Regions from separate parts of the Homo sapiens genome. Here region 1 is linked to region 2. The links come from fine-mapping of genetic effects on plasma protein levels. A gene starts in region 2. The other region holds a variant in brackets. All regions are shown on one strand. Distances are between the middles of the regions.

Region 1 (8,330 bases), 150 kb before region 2:
GCCTTGGAGGAAGACAGGAGACCCCTGGGGGCAGGGGAGGGGATCTGATCAAGTGGACATTGGCATTTCATTTCATGAGACCTCCTTGAGTGAAGTGAGTGCTACCGCCTGGATCCCTGAGGTGTCCCCACTTCCAAGCCCCAAGGTCTGAGCTCAGGCATGAAGCCCCATCCCATGCCCCAGCTACCACCTTCTTTCTGCCATGCCTGAGGTTCTCCAACTGGATGCAGGCACCCTGCCAATGTCACCAATGCTTGCTCTCAAATGATTAAACTTTCTGTTTTGCACATGATTCTGGAGCAGAGTGAGTGTCTGTGGTTCACTGACACCATCAGCCTAAAAGTCCCCAGCATGGAGCTCAAGAAATGCAAGTCCTCTCCTGCTTCCCCCCATAAGACCTTTAATTTTTCGTGGAAACTGAGGCCCAGGACATCAAAGGGCCACTTACCAGGAGTAGTACGGCAGGGTCAGGACCCAGCCTCTGAGCCCTCATCAAAGTTTCTCTCACTTCATCATAGAAGCCCCAGGGCAGCAGGTAAAAAAATTGCAGATCCCCAGGCCCACACTCCCCAGAGCTTCTGTCTCAGTAGTTCCAGGATGGAGAACTGGAATCCAAATTTAATAAGCTGCATGGGTGGGTCTGATGCAGCTGGATTGGGGGACACTTGGAGAAACATTGCTTTAGTCGACTCTTGCCTTTAGGCAGTCAGGGAAACTAAGGCTTGGAGAGGGCAAGGGGCACACAGCAAGCAGGTGATGGAGTTGATTGTAGAACCAGGTATTTGATGCCCACCTCTAAGTCCAGGTGACCGTGACTTACATGTGATGGTGTTCCACGGGATCCCTCAAGCCCCAAGAGTGTCTCCCTCCCCTGCTCAAGGTATGAGCCAAGTGTGACAGCTCAGCTGTCAACTCCCAGCCCAGCCACTTTCCAGGCAAAAGGTGACTCGGAAAAGGACGAATACAGAAGCTGGCATGGCCCAGGTTTGATAAAAACAAGCCGGGCATTTGCCCAAAGGGAGCCACAGGGGCTCAGCTCTAAGGAACACTTGTTCTGAGCCCTGAGCTGACTCCAGACCTGCCTCCCTCCCCGCCCCACCTGAATGCTGACATCTCACCTGTTGGCCTCACCAGATGCCATATATCTGCCCCCTGGGGGATTCCACACCTCCCTCCCAGTCTCTCAGGCCACACTGCCATGGCCCTATCAGTCCTCCTCCACCTGCTCTTGTCCTCACCCAGTCTTGCCACAGCCCTCTCCACTTCAAGTTGCTGGGACCCTTTTGTCGTCACTGTTCTGGTTCTGGACCTTCTTTCCTAGTTTCTGGACCCGAAAAGACTCCCAGGTCCTGTCTTTGCCCAGATCTGCCCTGTCATGAGTCACAGATCTGAGCATCTGATCCTTCATCCAGTGAGCATTAATTGAGCAACTACTATATGCCAGGTTATGTGGTTATGTGGACAGCCTCCCTTCCCTATTGTCATCCAAATTTAGGCAGCTCTACTATTTTGTGGGCCAAGTGTGGACCTGGAAATCTTTGCCAAGTCTGTGATTCCCCCGCCAACCTCCATCCACTAACCCCTGGGGGTCTATTATTTCTCCAGTGTACTGCCAGGGGTCCAGGAGCAGGTTCCCATGCTCCTCCGCACACTTGGGCAGTGCCCTACCCCACAGGAGGGTTATAAAGCATGTTGTGGTTGCAATCTCACTTGACCCTCATCTGGGAACTGAGAGAGAAAGCAGAGATTCGAATTCCCATTTCACAAGTGGGGGAACTGAAGCATGGGAAGGTGATCTGGTGAGGAAAGGCAGTGTTGGGATGGTGATTCAGGCCTCCTGATCTCGCCTGCAGGGCTCTTTCCTCTGATCATTACAGCAACAATGGATCGAGTCTACTCGGTGCCCAGCTTAGTGATAAGCTCCTGGCATGCACTCATTCAGCCATCACAACGGCTCCTCAAAGCAGGAACAACCATTATCTCTACTTTACATGTGAGGGAATTGAGGCCCAGAGAGGGGAATTGAGGCCAGAGAGGGCACTTGAGGTCACCTGGTGCATGATGAGCAAAGTTCGGTTTCAAATGCAGGTTGTCCTGACATCAGAGCGCCAGATCCTAACCTAAGCCACAGAGATTATGGGGGGAAATTTAAATCCAGCCATAGGTGTGGTCCTGGAAAGTGGCCAGAGGAGGTGGGGGTGAGGTTAGGAGTCAGTCCACATTGCACTATCAGCATTGAAACTGACACTTGAATAATCCTATACTCAAACCTATGGAGAGTTTTCTTGTATCCCTGCTGCAATTTACCTGATATAAGACACAGCATGGCCGTGGCTTCAGATGGGGGTTTCTGGGCTCCCTGATAGAAAAACAGGTGGAGCTGCTGTGGGGCTTGGAAGCCCTGCCCTGCAGACCCTTTCACCTCCAAGACTGCCCCTACTTAATGAGGATAACACGGCAACCATGGTGATAGCTCTCTACTAAAGGAAGATGGACAGGATGGTCACAGTCACAGCTCGGATGGTCACAGTCGCAGCTCAGATGTTCCGAGCACTTGCCATGTGCCAGGTGCCACGTGGCCAAGCCCTATATTTCCCTATTTCTTTACTTTTTCTTGTCCTCATTTTACAGATGAGAAATTGAGGTTTAGTCAAGTTAGCTGACCACTTCAAGAGCATACTGCTCATAAATGGAAGACTCAGGATTTAAACCCAGTGCCCACAGATGCCTCGACCATCTTTAATCCAGTGGATTGGAGCAGGGATACAAGAAAACTGTCCACAGATTTGAATGTAGGATTATTTAAATGAATCCATTTCTGCAGTGTCATCATTCCTGTGTTCTCTTTTCCAAGAATCTTCCTTTTAAGGGTGGCTTCTCCTTTCCCATCTTTTTTTCCACATTCTTTCTCCTGTTTTTTTCTTTTAAGTACAGGGATAATCGAACATTTTGGGAGGCCAAGGTGGGCAGATCACTTGAGCTCAGGAGTTCGAGACCAGCCTGGGCAACATGGCGAAACCCCATCTCTACCAAAAATACAAAAATTAGCTGGGCATTGGTGGTGCGCACCTGTGGTACCAGCTACTCAAGAGGCTGAGGTGGGAGGATCGCTGGAGACCGGGAAGTCAAGGCCACAGTGAGCTGAGATCACGCCACTGGACACCAGCCTGGGTGACAGAGTGAGACCTTGTCTCAAAAATAAATAAATAAATTAATTAATTTAAATACAGGAACTCGCTCTGACACTTGGGCTGGAGTGCAGTGGTGTGATCATAATTCACTGCAGACTTGAACTCCTGGGCTCCAGCAATCCTCCCACCTCAGCCTCCTGAATAGCTGTGATTACAGGCATGAGCCACTACATCCAGCTAACATATTTTTTGTAGAGATGGGGTCTCACTGTGTTGTCCAGGCAGCCTGCCCACCCCTGGCCTTAAGCGATCCTCCCACCTAGTGCTGGGATTACAGATAGGAGCTGCCACTGAATCTTTCTGCTTCTTAGCATTTCTCTCTTTGTCCCCAACCCCTACTCAAGTGCATTGCCTGGGGGGCTCAACCTCCAGGGCTCTGAACAAAGGGACAGAGTGATGCTCCAGTGGCCAGGAAGCAAGCCAGGTGGTTTTCAATTAGCTTTCAACAAAAGAGGAGTGTTGCTGCTGGTGGTGGTATTAATCTGCTGGAATTGTTGCAAAACCATTT[T/C]TGATAAAACATCATCACATGATTTTTGGCATTTACATTGAAAGCAGTTCAAAGAATTGAGCAACACTGTTTTACCAAAACTCTGTTCATTCTTATCTGCTGACCTGTATTTGCTAAACAAATAAGCGGATGTTTTTTAAGAGCGCTTAGGTCTCTAAAAATGAAAATTAGGTCTCTGATGAGTGCTAAACACTGCCTCCTTCTAGCAATAAGCAAATTATAAATCTGTTAAAAGAACTAATTGGAAAAAAGCCCAATCCATGTCATTAACACATCCATTTCCAAATCAATATTACTTTGTGTTTAATTATTATCAAAATTTGTTTTGATAAATTGTATATCACTATTAATAGTAACAATCTAAAAGATTATTTTAAATACATAGTGTCCACTGGTCAAAGGAGATTTGAAAAAAATTTAATCAAGATACATATTTTTTTAATGTTTACTTTTTAACAAATTTTTATATTTCCATAGGTTTTGGGGGAATGGTATTTAGTTACAAGAGTAAGTTCTTTAGTGGTGATTTGTGAGATTTTGGTGCACCCATCACCCAAGCAGTATACATTGGATCCGATTTGTAGTCTTTTATCCCTCACCCCCTTCCCACCCTTTCCCCCTGAATTGCCAAAGTCATTCTTTTTTTTTTGCTCTGTTGCCCAGGGTGGAGTGCAGTGGCACAATCTTGGCTCACTGCAGCCTCCGCCTCCCAGGTTCAAGCAATTCTCCTGCTACAGCCTCCCGAGTAGCTGGGACTACAGGCAAGCGCCTCTAACACCTGGCTAATTTTTGTATTTTTAGTAGAGATGGGGTTTCACGATGTTGGCCAGGATGGTCTCGATCTCCTGACCTCATGATCCACCCGCCTCGGCCTCCCAAAGTGCTGGGATTACAGGCATGAGCCACTGCACCTGGCCGCCAAAGTCATTCTTATGCCTTTGCATCCTCATAGTTTAGCTCCCACTTATAAGTGAGAACATACAATGTTTGGTTTTTCCATTCCTGAGTAACTTTACTTAGAATAATAATCTCCAATCCCATCTAGGTTGCTTCGAATGCTATTAATTCATTCCTTTCTGAAGGAATGAATATGCCCGGCCAGTTCACATGTTTTTAAATGGATGAAGGTGCTGAGTAGTATTCCATCGTATATATATACACACCACAGTTTCTTTATTCACTCATTGATTGATGGGCATTTGGGTTGGTTCCACATTTTTTGCAATTGTGAATTGTGCTGCTATAAACGTGCATGTGCAAGTATCTTTACACATAATGACTTCTCTTCCTCTGGGTAGAAACCCAGTAGTGGGATTGCTGGATCAAATGGTAGTTCAACTGTTAGTTCTTTAAGGAATCTCTATGCTGTTTTCCATAGTGGTTGTACTAGTTTACATTCCCACCAGCAGTGTAGAAGTGTTTCCTGTTCACCGCATCCACACCAACAAAGATAGATATTTCTGATGCAGAAGAGTCTACCTCTCTCCTTCCCTGTCCAACTTCATTCTCTGTTTTTTCCATTTGCGAGCTTCACACCAGCTTTGCTGGCCTCCTAACTATTCCTGTAATGCACCAGCACCTTCCCCACCCCAGGGCCTCTGCATGTACTGTCCCTCTGCCTGGACTGGTCAACCTTCAATAGTATTATGGCTGCCTCTCTCACCCTCTGCAGTCTTCACTCTAAGTCACCTTCTCAGGGAAGGTTTCTCTGACCTCTGTATCTAAAATTTCTCCTCCTTCCCCTCAACTCTTTTCTCCTTCTGCCCTGCCTGCCTCCCCCTCACTCCACCAATCACTGTTATACTTATTTGCTTTGTTTATATATCAACTAAAATGTCAGTTATATGAGAACAGGAGCTTTTGTCTGTTTTGCTCACCTGGTGACCCCAGTACAGAGCCTGGCTTGTAGCAGACGTTCAATACACTGTATTTAGATGAATGGAGGAATGAGCAAATGAAGGAATGGATGAATGAGTTTAATCAACATCGGACTTTCAAGCATAAATATCTATTACATTAGACTAAAACTCTGTGGGGACAGTGCTTTTTGTGCAATGCAAATACAAATTCAAGGAGAAAAAAGAATGCCACAAAATTTCTGACTGTTAAAGAATTTGTTCACGTTTTTGTTGTTGTTTTTTCTTTTTTGTGGTTTTTTTCTTTTTTGAGATGGAGTCTCAATCTGTCACCCAGACTGGAGTGCAGTGGCATGATCTTGGCTCACTGCAACCTCTGCCTCCCAGGTTCAAGTGATTCTGCTGCCTCAGCCTCACAAGTAGCTGGGACTACAGGCATGCACCACCACACCCGGCTAATTTTTTTGTATTTTTAGTAGAGATGGGGTTTCACCATGTTGGCCAGGCTGGTCTAGAACTCCTGACCTTGGGTGATCTGCCCACCTCAGCCTCCCAAAGTGCTGGGATTACAGGCATGAGCTGCCGCGCCCGGCCAGTTCACATGTTTGTAAATGGACGAAGGTGGAAATCAAACCACTGTGGAATTTGTAGTCCATTGGATACATGTATAAATGCACATAAAGAAATATAAATGTATTCCTTTTAAATGTCAGTATTTGCAATCCCCTGAAAATAAAATTGACAACTACTTCAACTCATGCTGAAAATTTGAGACGTCAACTTGCAAACGGGTGAGGGTCATGTGATACCACCAGAATGGCTAAAGTGTAAAATGGGAAATGCCAAGTGCTGGCGATCAGAACTTGCCTTCATTGCTGGTGAGAGTATCAGATGGTGTATGTGGAAATCTGCTTGGCAGTGTCTACTGGAACTGAATACTCACAAACCGCAGGATCCAGCCATTCCACTCCTGGGTACACACCCAACAGCAATAAGCACACATGTTCACCAAAAGGCACCAGAAGCTTTGCAGCAGCATTGTACGTAAGCCCCAAACTGGAAACTGCCCAAACACCCATCAACAGTAGACGGAAAAACGACATTGCGGTAACTTACACAATGGAGCACACTCAGGCATTTAAAATGAACAAACAAGGCCTGCACACAACCACATGGATTAATCACACAACTGTGATGTTGAGTGAAAGAACCAGGCACAAAAAGGCACGTTCTGCACGATTCCATTTACGTAACATTCAAAACCCAGCCAAATGAATCTGCAGTGTGAGACATGAGAATGGTACTGGAGTTCCCTTTGGGGGCAAGTTAGAGACTGGGAGGGGCCTAAGTGGGGCTCTGGGGATGTGGACGATGCCATATGTTTTGCTTGGATGCTGGTTGGGTGGCATGTTAGCCTGCTCAGGCTGCGATAACAAAGTACCCCAGACTGGGTGGCTTAAACAACAGGTGTTTATTTTTCTCATCGTCTGGAAGGCTCAAAATCCAGGCTCAAGGTATTGGCAGGGTCCGTTTCATTCCAAGGCCTCTCTCACTGGCTTGCAGATGGCCGTCTCCTTGCTCCATCTTCCCATGGCCTTGCCTCTGTGTGTGTCTGTGTCCTCATCTCTTCTTATAAAGACACCAGTCATACTGGACTAGGCCCCACCTCATGAGCTCATTTTAAATGGATTAATTACCTCGTTAAAGACACTATCTCTGAATACAGTCACATTCTGAGATACGGGGGGTTAGGACTTCAACATATAAATTTGGGGTGCTGGTTGGGGACACAGATTAGTCCCTAACCCCTGGGAAGTTTCACTTTGTACAAATCCCTACAGCCCTCTGCCTATGGTATGGGCCCTTTATGTATGTCTGTCCTGCTTCAATAAAGATGGTGTGAGGGGCACATGGTTTTAAGGAATTCTGAACAAAACATAGAGGTTGCTCTGACCATCAAGTATGGTGTTTCCTCCAAAGGCTGTAGAAATATGCCTGGCATAAATCACAGAAGGCTATGAACAGCCAGAGAAATGGAGCATCCACCAGGACTCTGCATCAAACTCCAGGGAAGAGCTCCCTGGAGGTGGAGGCGCTGGCCAGGCTGGTCTGCCCCATCCCCAGCAGACCACCCTCTGGCCAGGCCTCCCACAGGGAGCTCTCCAGCCCCCAGATGCCTGCTTTTCTGATGGTGCAAACCAAGCTTCAAGCATGGGAGGCCCTGGCTCCTTGGCCGTGAGCACTCTCTCCCCGACTCAGCCTGGCCCTGCTGTCCTGTCCCTCAAGCCTGCCATCACCCCACCCTGGTGGGGCCGTTTTTCTTTCTCCTGCTGAGTAAAGTGTGAAACAGGTGAAAAGGCTGCAGACAGACAGGAGGCCAGCCAGCCAGCCCCAGGCAGTGCCCCAGCCACCTTGTGGCTGACTCCCATTCCCATACCAGTGACACTCAGAGGGCACTGGGTAGAGCCAGGGTACCTGAGAGGGATGGCAGGAGGGATCAGGAGAGGCCCACTGGGGTCAGTGCTGTGTGACATGGCTCGGCCTCTCTGGGCTGCAGCCTCCTCCTGCTCTGACGTTCCTCAAACCCCCAAGAGGGTTTCAGGAAGAGTCACACTGAGGTTGTGAATGGTGACAGAAAGACCAACAGCCCCTTCAATGGGTACCACCCTTCACAGGTTGCAAGTTGCTCTCCTTGTCCCTCAGGGAGCAGGTGCTAAGGCCAGCACCAAGGGGGAACCTGAGACAGAGAAGAGTCAGTCCCACGACTGGCCAATG
Region 2 (8,299 bases):
CACTGCACTCCAAGACAGAGCAAGACTCTGTCTCAAAAAAAAAGAAAAGAAAAGAAAAAAGAAATAGTAGGGCTATTTATATTATACATTTCATAAAGCTCCCTTCCTTTCATACATTGTTGGCCCCCAAAACTGTGTTCCAAAGTCAAATGCGTGGAAGATGAATAGAGGGAGGGTCACGTGTGTGTATGTGTGCGTGTGTGTGTGTGTGTGTGTGTGTGTGTGGCAGGGGTGTTGAGTGTTGGTTGGGGGAGGGCATCCAGGGCGTTCCCAGGAGGCTGAAACCTCTCATGAGCCTCTGATGGTGTCGTTTCAGGATCCTACACATGTTCTCATTTTTGTTCCGCATCATGACTGAGATAATCGCACATTGTGACTGTATATTTATTTGTCTGTTTCTTGCTCTCCCTCCGTCTCTGTCTCCCCAGGACACTGTGAGCCCCAGGAGGGCAGGGGCTGATCTGTGGGCTCCCTGCTATATCCAAGGCACCCAGCTCTGTGTCCACACAGAGGGTGTGTAAGGTGCATTTGCTGACTGACTAACTGACCTGCTAGCCGACTGCATCTGTTTGTGCCACCAGTCTTGAATTACTAAAGAAAATTAGAGGGTTGGGAGAGAAATACTGGGGGACTGACCCCTAAAATCATACAAGCCCTGCAACATAGCAAAGTCTTAGGCTCTAGCCTGCTCCAGCCTCTCTGGCCCTGCCCTGGGCTGCTAGTGGAACCTCTCCCGCCCTCCTGACCTGGAGAGACTGGAGATGGGGTGGGGGTGGGGGCTGCCTCAAGAATCTATCTCCAAGGATGGCCATTTGAGGGCAGATGAGGTTAAACCTCCAAGCACCCCAAACTGAGGCTCCCAACTTGAGGGACTCAGCTGCCCCCAGGGGCCTGGTCCAGTGATTCCCCCATCTCCCAGGGACCTGCCCATTTCCCAAGCCCCCCACTCAATAGTCACACCGTTTTCAAGGACAGGTAGACACTGGTACGTGAGGGTTCTCACAACAGCTGAACTTTGTAAGTCACCCCTTCCTGTCTTCCTTTATCTAGTTACAGCTAGACAATATGATATGATATCAATCAGAGCAACTGCAATACCAGTCACAGAAATCCCAGTGTCAAGAGTTCCTTCTGGGGTTCCCCGCTTTGCTTTAAGTGAGCGTGCTGTGAGTATGTCCCAGCTCCTGTCCCCTGCAGCACCGCTATTGTGAAGTCAAAGTGAGTTAACACCATGCTCAGGGCAGGGCCTGGAAAGAGGACCTGCTCATCTGATTGGGTGGTTTCCATGTCAAGGCCAGGCACAGCACAGGCCGACAGCTGGGGCCCAGAGCCCCTTTTGCCAGGCACAGACTGCAGGCACAGAGAGGTGAGGACATTTGCCTGAGGCCACACAGTAGGGGCGGGTCACCGCGTAGTGTGTCCAGGTGCACTCTCCACAGGCCGCCCAGCTCCCTCCTGAGCTTCAGAAAGCACCCAAGAGATTGGCAGAGAGAGGAGAGAGACAGTGGGTAAGAGAGAGACAGGGCAGGGACAGCCTGAGGAGGAGGGAAGGAGAGACAGAAAGAGAAGGGGATGGCAAGAGCAAGACAGAGACCTCTGGGAAAGCCAGACAGTGAAGACAAGCAGGCTACCCGAGGCCTGGTTTTGAGGATCTGAGCACACTGTCCCCTGCCTTGGGGGAGGCTCCATACAGCCCACAGCGTTCTGGGAGGCACTGAGGGCCTCAGGACCCCAGCCCTGCTTGTGCTCCATTCCCATCCCCAATCCCATCTCACCTCCAGCCCCTGGTTCTGACTCCTCATGAGAACATCCCCAGCTCCCCTTCCCTGCCACCCGCCCCACTCCCTTCCCCTCCAGCCCACCTTCCCTGCCACCCGCCCCACTCCCTTCCCCTCCAGCCCACCTTCCCTGCCACCCGCCCCACTCCCTTCCCCTCCAGCCCACCTTCCCTGCCACCCGCCCCACTCCCTTCCCCTCCAGCTCCCCTTCCCTGCCACCCGCCCCACTCCCTTCCCCTCCAGCCCACCTTCCCTGCCACCCACCCCACTCCCTTCCCCTCCAGCCCACCTTCCCTGCCACCCGCCCCACTCCCTTCCCCTCCAGCCCACCTTCCCTGCCACCCGCCCCACTCCCTTCCCCTCCAGCCCACCTTCCCTGCCACCCGCCCCACTCCCTTCCCCTCCAGCCCACCTTCCCTGCCACCCGCCCCACTCCCTTCCCCTTCAAGCGACTCAGGCAAGCTCCCAGACACTCTTTCCAAAACCCACCCTCCTTCCTTTGCCCCTGAAAGGCTCCCACTCTGGAATGCCCTCCCCTCCTAACACATCCCTATCCCTTAAGCCCAGATCAAATGTCACCTCTTCCAGGAAGCCTTCTCTGAACTATTCCCCAGGGAAGCATTGTGATGCCATTGCTGATAGCAGCAACAAAAGCCCAGTCATGCCAGTTCCAGAATCACCAGGAAAGAAAGAAAGAAATCATTTTTCCCCTCCCTAATCAGGCAGGTTATCCCCTTCTGGGCCCCACTGAGCTGCCAGCGACTGTCACACACGAGGCAGGTGCCAGCCTCCCTCTCTCTCAGTGCTGACCATACCATCTGTGTGTTTGCCCCTGTTCTACTGTTTGACATACTTGACCTGTGCTGGCCTTATTAAGCCCATCCTGTCTGCACCCTGGCATTTGTATTGCTCGTCTGGCCCTAATAACAATCCCTGTGTCACCTCTATCCTGGTACTTTGCACACTTGGCCAAGGCTCACGGCAGTGAAAGCAACACATCACCCTGCCTGGGTTCCCATTCCTGGAGCTCTGAGCCTACGCACATGCTGCCCACGTGGATGAAAATCCCAGCACTCAGCCGGCTGCCTGCATCCACCTCTGTTGGGTCACCCAACACACCTTCATCAACTGGACTGTGGGCCCCACGAGGGCAGAGATCTGGTCTTTGTCTCCCCCCAAGAGCTAGGACAGCTTCCAACTTAGCCAGGGTTCATTTGCACTGAATTTAATCTATTTCTGTCCCACAAAAGAGGGATTATGTTGTAAGTTCCAGTAATGATTTCTTTATTTCTTTCCTGGTGGTTCCGGGACCGGCATGACTGGGCGTTTGTTGCTGCTATCAGCAATGGCATCACAATAATTCCTCAGAGTCCCAGGTTGGTGGGGGCTGTGGGTCGGGCATTGGGAAAGGAATGAGGTTTCCTCCACTCCCTTGTCCTGCGCCCAACCTTTATTGACTCATTTGCAGGCCATTTAGTGGGGTTGTTTACATATCCAATACATATATTTAGTGTAAACATTTTTTTAATTCTGAAAAATACCAAGAAGATGGTGAAAGTGACCTGTGATCACACCACCAAGAAACGTGTACTGTTGATGCATTTCCTTCCAGTATTTTTTTCTAGATTAAAAAAAATTTTTTTTTGTTAAAAAATAGAAGAAACAGTTTCCCTTTTCACTTACTTCTGTTGGTTGGTCTACATTGTTTTGTGATGGCTGCCTGGTGGCCCACGGTTTATTTAATAAATCCCATTGCTGGATGTTAAGGCGGGTCCCACTTTAGGGCTATTCCAGGTAAGGCTGCAGTGAGCATCCTCACAGTTCTCTATGCTCAAATCACTGGCCAGTTCCCTTGGCAGAACCTCCACTGACCCTGGGTCAATGGGTTTGATCTTCCTAACAACATACTTGACCTCAGAAACAGCCCAGTCCTCATTGCATAAGAACTGAGCCCCCTCCACTATAAGCAAAGGTCATCACAGCCAGCCTGGCCACTGCATCGTGGAGCCCAACATCTTTATTCTATAGCTGGGGAGACTGAGGCTCAGAGAGAACTGACTTATCCAAAACCAGCCCAAAGGTAGTGGCAAACTCCATGTCATCTAGGGATTTTCTCCCCACTCCATTATCTTTAATATTTTGCAAGAAAATCCATAATCCTTAACAAGGATGCTGGTGGGATGTAGCAAGGATGAAGCATCTGTGTCTGCTCATGACCGACATTGTTAATCAATCACCACATTCTCTCCTGCTGAGCCCAGACCCTTGAAAGCTTCAAGAGCCATCACCAGGCAGCTGAAATTGGTACAAGAGCAAAATGCTTCTACCATGCTGGTGGAGCATCTTTGGTGGCAACAATGGAGGACCTGAGCTTCTTTAGGAGTGGCTTGAATTCTTGCTTTCCTTCTTTCTTTCGAGCCAGTGACAGTTGGCAAGGCCTCTGATTTCCATCTGTCCACGTCATCAGAAACCCTCTCTGGTTTTCCGCATGACTGCAGTCTTCCCAGGAGAGCTTGGCCCTCGTTCTGGCTGGAGATGGTAGGGCAGGCTGGGTCAGTGCGTGGAGCATGGGCTCTCAATTCAGACAGAAATGGGTCCCAATCCTGGCCCTCTGCTTTATGGTTGTGGGACCTTAGGCAAGTCAATTCCCTTCTCCAAGGTCCTACTTCATCTGGAAAATGGGAGGATAAAAACCCCTATTTTCTCCTCTCTTGGCCTCAGTTTGGTGATCTGTAGAATGGAGATGATCTTTTCCACTCTGCCATCTTGCTGTGTCTGAGCATCCAGCTTTGATTTAACATCAGATTATCTCCCCACCCCTAACCGAGGCTTCTGTGGATCAGCTTGGTGGGAAAGGGGAGAAGAGGTGTGTGTTCTCTCCCTGCACTTCCCTCTCCTTCTCTTTCTCTCTCTCTCTCTCTCTCTCTCTCTCTCCATCCAGAAGGAAGAAAAGGGGCAGGAGAATTTTCCTTTGACTGATATTGTTGCCAGGTAGTTCCCAACTCTCTGGGGAGCCCAAAAAATGTTGAGAGCCAAGTCTTGTCGGCACCTTCAAAGAGGTAGTCTTACCTCCCTGTGGGGCTTCTTGACCTGCACCCCCCACACCAGGGCAGAGCCTCTTTGATGGCTAACTGTCCCGCAGGCCACCCCAGCCACTCCCAGCCCCTGGTTCTCTAGCGTCCTCTCCAGGTGGTGATACTAGGAAGGACTTCAAGCAGCCCTAGACCGATCTTCGTCTTGCAGGGTCCACACCCGGCCCTGGGAAAACACACACACACATGCGCTTTGACCCTGCCCAGAGGGAACAGAGAGCAGTAATTTTCCACTTACGGAAGTCACTTTGCCCAACATGACTTCAACTCATCAGGAGACACAACCCAGTCTACTGCAAGCCCCAACTCCAGGGGAGACAAACCTCAAGCCCCTAAGTGGTCCCTGAAAAGGTCCCTCCTGCTAGGCCTGCATTGAGGCCCAAACACCTCCTGCCCTCCTCCCTGGGAGAGGAGGAGGGACCACAGCTGTCTCCCAAGAAATACCTCTGCCATCTTCTTCCTGTCCCTTCTTGGCCCTTTCGTTGCCTTAATCTGGGTCAGGGCCCCCTGCATGAGAGATGCAGGAGCTGTGCAACTGGTTTTTAGCCACTGCTTGGTCTGTGGCCCAGGACCTCTCCTTGGTATACAGCATCTGGGAAATCATGGTGCCTAAAACAACACTCAAGTTTTCAGACCCAGTTCCAGTAAATGCTAGTAAGGACACCCTCAGTGTGCAGCAAAAAGAGCCCTACCTTAGAGAGGGTGGTCCCCTTGTCCCCTGCTCCCCCACCCCACCCCAGGAGGCAACACTGTAGCTGAGACTTGGTGAATTAGAAGAAGCCAGAATGAGAGCTGGAAGGAGAGCGCTCCTGGGATAAGGCCAGCATGTGCGCAGGCCCTGGGGTGGGAGTGAGAGGAGCGAGGGATGAAGTAGAGAGAGGTGAGGGCTGAAAGGTGGCCAGCAGCCAAACATGCTGGGAAGAGGACATCCAGGCCAGGTGGAGCAGCAGTCAGGCAGCTTTATGCAGATGTTGCGTTCTTTTTTGTGTGTGTGAGACAGAGTCTTGCTCTGTAGCCCGGGCGGGAGTGCAGTGGTGCGATCTTGGCTCACTGCAACCTCTGCCTCCTGGGTTCAAGTGGTTCCCCTGCCTCAGCCTTCTGAGTAACTGGGTCTACAGGCACGTGCCACCTAAAAACCATGCCCGTCTAATTTTTTTTTTTTTTTTTTTTTAGAGACAGGGTTTCACCATGTTGACCAGGCTGATCTCAAACTCCTGACCTCAGGTAATCCACCAGTATTTGCCTCCCAAAATGCTGGTATTACAGGTGTGAATTTACCACTTGCTGAATTCTCTGATGTTTCAAGCATTTCTCATGACCTTACGAGACCCTCAAAATAGTCCCATTTCACAATGGAGGAAACAGTCTCATAGAGAAGAAGCAATTTTCCCAAGGCTGACAGCTGTCAGTATAGGAGCAGGAATCTGAGCCGTGTCTGTCGGCCTCCACAGGCTTCCTCCTGCACTCCTGCGCTTCTTCCCAGACAGGGCACAATTAGGTTTTCAGGAGGGTGAAGGAGGTACTCCAGAAAGAGGACACGGCACAAAAAGGCCTGGGAGCTGAAGAGAGGTGGAGCCAAGGCCAAGAGACGCCAGCAACCTGAGGAGGGGCCACGCGGTACTGAGGGCAGGTGTGGAGTCTGGGGACCATGGGCCTGCAGAGATGCAGCCAGCTTTGCTGTCCCAGCACGTGGCAGGAAGCAGGAGCTGATGCGGCCCCAGGTCTTGGCATTGGGCCCGAGCACCGCACAGAGGGTCATTGTCCATGGGCAGTGGGCATGGCCAGCTGGGAAGCCAAGCAGGGGCATTTGCCTCTCTGGAGATGTGCCCAAGGGATCGGCAGGGTCCTCCCAAGAGCTCTCTCAAAACACCTCACCTTTAGGTATTCAGGGCTTTTGGTGTGTTTGCAAACATGGCAGGACAGCAAACGCTCTTCACCTTGTTCTTCTTGTCAAAAAGCAGGAGGAAGAGACCAGCCAGGGCCTGGCCACGTACTTTGTGACCTCAGAACACTTACTGCCCCTGACTTGTCTGCTGCAGATGGAGACAGGATTCAACAATGGCCATCCCAGCTCTAAACCACAATTCCATTCTTCTAGACAAAAACTGGGTAGCAAGGATAATTCCCCAGATGACATCAAAAGGCCATGTTGGTGTCACCACCACCTCCAGTGCTAAATTGAAGTCTCAGGGGAAGGACAGTGTGGCGGTTAAGAGGGTCCGGTCTGGACTGATGATCGGGTTCAGGTCCCAAAGCTGGAATCCCTGGTCATGTGACCTTGAGCAAGTCACTCGCCTCTCTGAGCCTCAGGTGCCCTCTGTAACATTAACGCTGCTGATGCCCACCTCTGGGTGACTGTGCAGGCTGCGTGAGCCAAGACCTGGGCCCAGGTGGTGGATGACAGCGTCCTGCTGGGCTCTGACATTTGTCCTTTAGGTTCATGGTCATCCCTCCTTATTCTTTTGGTCCACAAGTGCTCATGGAGATTCCTAAAGATGCAGACAAGGTAGAGCAGATTTTAATTGCTGCGGAATGAATGAATGAATGAAATGAAAGCCCATGCTAAGCACTGTGTAGGCATGCACTTCAACTCATGCTCTTAACAACCTATGAGGAGGAGCTACTATTATCCCCATGCTATAGATGAGGTCATTGGGGCCCAGAGAGGTGAAGTACCTTGCCCAAGGGCACACAGCAAAGCAGTGGCAAAAATAGGATTCAAATCTATTCTCCTGGGTGAATTAATTGATGGAGATGTGTATCTTTGATGTATTTAGGAATAAGGGGTGGGTAAGGCTACTCCTTCCTTTTCCCAAATTGATTATCTGGATTAAACAATTGTTGTAATCCCTCTACAAAGGCTCATCCTATTATAAGCAATAATAATATTAATGGCAACGGCCACTCACATTTATGGAGTGCTTATTCTGCTATATGCACTGTGCTTCTCTCAGCCTGGACCTTCCTTTCTCCAAACCTCAGGAAGCTGGAGTCCCAAGGCTGCCTCCGGGCGGGGCTGTGGTTCAGCAGAAGCCACAAATATTTACCTTGGAGACCTCGGCCTGGTCTGAGGCCTCTGCCTAAAGACAAAGCCTGTGCTGGGGTGTGCAGGATATAAGGTTGGACTTCCAGACCCACTGCCCGGGAGAGGAGAGGAGCGGGCCGAGGACTCCAGCGTGCCCAGGTAAAAGTAGGGAAGGGGCTGAAAGCCAAGGTTGCCAGGAAGGTTCTGAGCTAGAGATACCTGTTGGGGTCAGGTCAGGAGCACAGGGGAGGCTCGCCCTCAGGGAAGGGCCCTCGGTGAGTCAGGATCCGCTGAGGGTCAGGGCCAGGTGTAGAGAGATGCCCAGCTCCCTCGCCCAGAGGACCAAAGGGCAGTGACGAAGGGATGGGGCTGGCTGAGTGTTTTCCTGACCTCTTCCTAGTGAC

Alleles and levels. Alleles are on the strand shown, and positions count from the first base shown. The strength of an association depends on the size of the effect and on how common the allele is.
As copies of T replace C in region 1, the plasma level of the protein whose gene starts at base 8,014 in region 2 goes down (moderate association).

What was found. PIP is the posterior inclusion probability: the model's chance that the variant is causal. The UK Biobank Pharma Proteomics Project read protein levels with antibody pairs (Olink). The fine-mapping took linkage between variants from a reference panel, not from the people measured, so its PIPs are less certain.
Region 1: its variant is fine-mapped to the plasma level of the BPIFB1 protein (UK Biobank, PIP above 0.99).

The regions. Positions count from the first base shown.
Region 1 is chr20:33,124,203-33,132,532 of GRCh38, forward strand. No RefSeq gene overlaps it. Among named protein-coding and RNA genes, the nearest start is that of BPIFA2, 40 kb to the right of the region's middle. The variant T/C (reference allele first, on the strand shown) is at 3,700.
Region 2 is chr20:33,275,201-33,283,499 of GRCh38, forward strand. It overlaps BPIFB1 (BPI fold containing family B member 1), which reads left to right and starts at 8,014. Exons shown (of 16, transcript NM_033197.3): 1 at 8,014-8,054. RefSeq lists enhancers at 6,086-6,586, 6,587-7,087.